2 separate regions of the Homo sapiens genome follow, and region 1 is linked to region 2. The links come from fine-mapping of genetic effects on gene expression. Tissue or cell type: whole blood. Region 2 holds a variant in brackets; the other region holds the start of a gene. All regions are shown on one strand. Distances are between the middles of the regions.

Region 1 (2,764 bases), 40 kb after region 2:
GGTCTCAAATGAAACTGTGCCAAGCTGTCAGAGACACTGGGACTCTATTTTGCTTACTAAGGTTAAACACTAGTATTACTTTTGGTCACCATACTATTAAAAAATAAAGACAATCCTACGAAACTTAGGCAATTAATATCAGAATAAAGAGGTCAATAATGTTTATTCTCTATTAACATGTACATTTAGAAAATAAAAGCAAAGCTTAAAAATGCATGGAAGTCTTACACAAGACGACTGTTGGGGCATAATGCCTGACACAGAACGCAGTTAAACACTGTGGAAAGCCTGAATGAGTGAAAGCATACAAACCACCACCGTGCGGCTCTCTACACTAGCAAGTTTCCGAAGTTCGCCCCAGCCGGTTTCCCTGAACAAGTTCCCAACCGCATCACGTTTAGTTTATCTCGTTATTTTAACTCGGAGCGAGGCAATGGGAAAAAGAAAAACAATGAGAGCCGTACTCTGTTTATTAAGCGATGAATGACGACACATGGGTGAGCGTGTCTGGCATGCCCTATTTAAGACTTTAAACATAGTACATTAGTACGCTAACAGCAAGCTCTGGAAATAAAAGGAACCGCTTGCATATTTAGGGGGCTCTTTTGTAAGCCACAAAGGAAATCACCTGAAGTCAAAGCTCCCCTCTTTTCCTAGCAAGGCAGGGACGACGGCAAAGAGAAAGTAGGTCCCGGGGCGCTGCAACCCGTGCAACTTGCCGGCTGGCGTCCCCCGGCCTCGCGCCTCCACGCCCTGCGCGGGCGACCGCTCTTGCCACAACGGCGCCCCGCAGCGTCCTCCCCGGGGACGCCCGCTCAGCCGGGAGCTCGCGGCCGGTACTCACCCGCTGGGTATACTCTTCTTCTTCACCAGGACGAGAGGGATGAGAGACCCACGCCCCAGGCAACCCCGCTCTCAGGCCTCCTCCAGAACAGACCCCAGGGTACGCTACAACTCACACGCTCACGGGCAGAGGCGAGGGGCGGGGGTGATAGACCCCGGCGGCGAACAGACTTGGCGCACCGAAGATTCCCAAAGGCGCGTGCTCCGCTCCCTCTGGGTCCTGGCAGGCCAGGGGCGGCAGCGCGCATGCTCCTGGGTCGCCGCTACTTGCAGCCCGCGGGCGCCGTAGGGCTGGCGCAGGGTGCGGTGGGGCGGTTGGTGATCATCCTAGCCTGCGGTAGATGGTGCGCCCTGCCTTCCCTGCCCAGACGTAAGAAAAGTGCACTGTCCGTCCAGGTGAATGTCGGGCTGCTGGTGAAGGTTTCTCTGATTCTTCCCTGTCAGACATTCCCGCACTTTTGTGGAGCTCTGCTGCATGGGCAGAACTAGCTGGGCTGGGATAACCGGAGCCGGGGCCGCGCAGGCCGCTGGGACTTGTAGTTCGGGGGCCTGGCCGACCGGTTTGTTAGCCAATTTGGGAATGAGTAGAATTGAAAATCACTCGAGAGCAGTGTTTGATTTGCAAGAAATACGGGTCGGCATATTATTAATTCAGTGCCTACTGTGTGTGCTGAACACCTTGCCTTAGTCCTGATCTTCACATTAGGATAAGCAGGAAGATGAACTTGGAAGGTAGAATGTAATGAACAAAAATTCGCATTATGAACTACAAATGCTGTTGGAGATCAAGAGACAGAGTTAGAAAAAACTTCCTGAAAGACGTGGAGTTTGAATCAGCCTTAGAAACACGGAATGCTATCCATTTGCGGGGAAGTTGTAAAAATTAAAGGTTGGAGATGCCAGGGAGAATAAACAAGAACTCCATCCAGCTATAGTTGAGGGGTTATGTTGGAGAGTGGTCAATGTTGGAGAGTGGTCACTGCGGCTTAGATGGGGAAGTGATGTGAGAGTTTTTTGGCTTCACTTTCAGAAAGGGCCTCCTGGTTGACTTTCTCTCTAATTGAGGCTATAAGTATAGACACAGAGATACATCTTCAGGTTTGAATAAAAAACATTACAGTACTTGTTTAGAGCTTCTGGGCCTCCTGGCCAGTGGTTGCTCTAAGAATTAATACATTTTTATAAATCTTGTAATTCACCTTTGAGTAGCAAAACTACGTTGCATGGTGTGTGTTAGATGTAAATTTTCAAAATATAATATGATAGTTTTTGTAACCTGTTTCCACATTAGTTTTCATGTACCAGAAGTCCCAAGATAGAGAAGTGGGCCCAAATCTTTCTTGATCTACAGGAGCAGGACATGATGACTTGGGAACTGGTCCTCAGAGCAGTGGGTGATTTAGTTTTGTTGCCTTTCGAAGACTTAAATAAATTCACAGATCAGAAAATCTTTTGTCACGCCGTTTGTTCCTAAGTTTTGATTTTGGAAAACAAGATAACAGTTAAGTTAATTTTTAAACTTGCCAGTTAATGCAATACATGGAAGTCATAATGTTTTTTGTAGAACACTGTGAAATACTGCTATATTCCTCTTAACTAAGTAAAGAATTGTTAAGTTAAATTCCACTTCTTCCATATCCTAATAACAATAAAGGGTAGCTGGTGCTATATATTTAATAGATTATTTTTACAAAATGCTATTGTTGCCTTAATTACATCATAACTGTGAATGAGACCTTAATTCTGGACATAGCATCCTAATTCAAATTAAGTCTGGAAGGCATCATTTAGGAAACATTGCTATAAGAGAGTTCAGAAAGGTGTCATCATACTATGTGACAATAGATGAACTGAGATAAAGATAAAATTGGATTTTGGTCTGAATTCAGATCTGCTAAGGAAGGAAAGTGCATTAATACAT
Region 2 (2,764 bases):
CTTTGTGCTTGTATAGGTTTTAAAGACCTGACACCTTTCATAATCTTTGCTTTATAAAAGAACAATATTGACTTTGTCTAGAAGAACTGAGAGTCTTGAGTCCTGTGATAGGAGGCTGAGCTGGCTGAAAGAAGAATCTCAGGAACTGGTTCAGTTGTACTCTTTAAGAACCCCTTTCTCTCTCCTGTTTGCCATCCATTAAGAAAGCCATATGATGCCTTTGGAGAAGGCAGACACACATTCCATTCCCAGCCTGCTCTGTGGGTAGGAGAATTTTCTACAGTAGGCAAATATGTGCTAAAGCCAAAGAGTTTTATAAGGAAATATATGTGCTCATGCAGTCAATACAGTTCTCAATCCCACCCAAAGCAGGTATGTCAATAAATCACATATTCCTAGGTGATACCCAAATGCTACAGAGTGGAACACTCAGACCTGAGATTTGCAAAAAGCAGATGTAAATATATGCATTCAAACATCAGGGCTTACTATGAGGTAGGTGGTATATACATGTCACAAATAAAAATACAGTTACAACTCAGGGTCACAAAAAATGCATCTTCCAATGCATATTTTTATTATGGTAAAATATACATAAATATAATTCACCATTTTAACATTTAATTCATATTAAATACGTACAAATCAGTGACATTTAGTACATTCACAGTGTTGTGCCACCATCACCACTATTTAGTTCCAGAACATTTGCATCATCAATACATTGTCTAGAGACAAGACTATCCTGGGTAGGCAGAAACCATAGATCTTTTGTGTTTACAGCTATGGAAACCAACTGTACCATAAAGATAGTTCACTGAGTTTTAAAGCCAAGCCACATCTTATTTTTCCAAGGTTTAATTTAGTGAGAGGGCAGCATTAGTGTGGAGTGGCATGCTTTTGCCCTATCGTGGAATTTACACATCAGAATGTGCAGGATCCAAGTCTGAAAGTGTTGCCACCCGTCACACAACATGGGCTTTGTTTGCTTATTCCATGAAGCAGCAGCTATAGACCTTACCATGGAAACATGAAGAGACCCTGCACCCCTTTCCTTAAGGATTGCTGCAAGAGTTACCTGTTGAGCAGGATTGACTGGTGATGTTTCATTCTGACCTTGTCCCAAGCTCTCCATCTCTAGATCTGGGGACTGACTGTTGAGCTGATGGGGAAAGAAAAGCTCTCACACAAACCGGAAGCCAAATGTCCCCTATCTCTTGAATGATCAAGTCACTTTTGACAACATCCAGGTGAATATAAAAACTTAATAAAGCTGTGGAAAGGAACTCTTAATCTTCTTTTCTGCTACTTAGGTTAAATTCACTAGATCTTGATTAGGAATCAAAATTCGAATTGGGACATGTTCAAATTCTTTCTTGTGGTAGTTGCCTATACTGTCATCGCTGCTGTTGGTTGAGCATTTGTGGTGTACCACGCTGTGTGCTCAAGGGTATTACATTCATCTTCTCATTTAATCCTCACAACAATCTGAAGA[A/G]GGTAGGTATTACAATTCCCACTTCATAGAAACAGAAACTGAGGTTCAGAGAGGTTAAGTCATTTGCCCAAATGGCTGAGCCAAAGCCTACCATGTACCTAACCTTTATTTTCTTTCCCGAACATACCAGGCTGTCTCCTCATAACTTCCAAGCATGCACTTAAAACTCCACATGAATACAAGGTTCATGGGACTTGGTATTCATAGAAAGGGAGGCAGAAAGCTGGTCTGTTCCTGATAGGCTTGTAATTTAATATCATTCTGTTCATGTGCTTTGGATGGAAGCACATCTGGCATATGATGCTAATCAGTGGTTCCCATACCCCTGGCTTCCTAATTTTAATGTTTGCTCACAGCATAGTAGATTGACATCAAATAGTGGCCGATGATGATGAAAATAAAGGTCAAATAAGTTGAGCCAATAACAGCCGCTTTTTTCCTTCTGTCTGCGTATACAAAGCACTGTCATGCACACAATCTATTCTGACCCTCACAACAACCCATAAGGGTGTAAATAGTATTTCCATTTTACAAATGAGGATCACACAAACTACTACATGGCAGAGCAGATACTCCAACTCATGTCTTCTGGTTGAAGCCTATTGCTTTTTCTTTTCTAAACACTTTCCCTCAGCAAGTTGGAATTAGACTTCACAAGTCTCCTTCAGAGAACACAAATCTTTTCTTATTCCATTCCTGTTTGGTTGCCTACGTCCAATCTCCCCCTCCCCAGAGATGCCAAAAAAAAAATCCTTTAAGGTATTTGGGAGCCAAACTCAACTTGTTAAAATCTCAAATTATGGAGACAATCAGCAGACACAACCTAACCCCAATTATTTTGGCAGGAAGGTTGGTTTAGAGGCAGATCCAGCAATCTGCTTTGGGCCACTCTGGGTGGGGTAGGTGAAATAAGATTGGTCACTGTTAACTAATTTTAATATTGGATTGGCCATTGGTTATCACTGATTACCATTCTCCCCTGGATTTTCACCCAGGACTCAAAACTTGGTTCTGCTAACCCTGTTCCTTTATGAGGAACCTTTTAAAGATTCCTTTATAAGGTGGGAGTTTTTTTTCTATGAACCTATAGGGGAGAAAAAAGATCAGCAGAAGTCATTACTTTTTTTTTTTTTTTTTTTTTTTTTTGAGAGAGAGTCTCACTCCATTGCCCAGGCTGGAGTGCAGTGGTGCTATCTCGGCTCACTGCAACCTCCGCCTCCTGGGTTCAAGCAATTCTCCTGCCTCAGCCTCCCGAGTAGCTGGGATTGC

What was found. PIP is the estimated chance that this variant, and not a neighbour inherited with it, causes the effect.
Region 1: it holds the start of CC2D2B, and the variant in region 2 is fine-mapped to the expression of CC2D2B in whole blood (TOPMed, PIP 0.99).

What each region holds. Positions count from the first base shown.
Region 1 is chr10:95,906,819-95,909,582 of GRCh38, forward strand. It overlaps CC2D2B (coiled-coil and C2 domain containing 2B), which reads left to right and starts at 1,157. Exons shown (of 35, transcript NM_001349008.3): 1 at 1,157-1,239. All of the region lies in intron 2 of ENTPD1-AS1 (ENTPD1 antisense RNA 1), which reads right to left. RefSeq lists enhancers at 1,184-1,373, 1,414-1,473.
Region 2 is chr10:95,866,627-95,869,390 of GRCh38, forward strand. ENTPD1 (ectonucleoside triphosphate diphosphohydrolase 1) reads left to right here. Exons shown (of 10, transcript NM_001776.6): 10 at 1-2,764. The region is part of intron 3 of ENTPD1-AS1 (ENTPD1 antisense RNA 1); the gene reads right to left. Among named protein-coding and RNA genes, the nearest start is that of CC2D2B, 40 kb to the right of the region's middle. The variant A/G (reference allele first, on the strand shown) is at 1,496.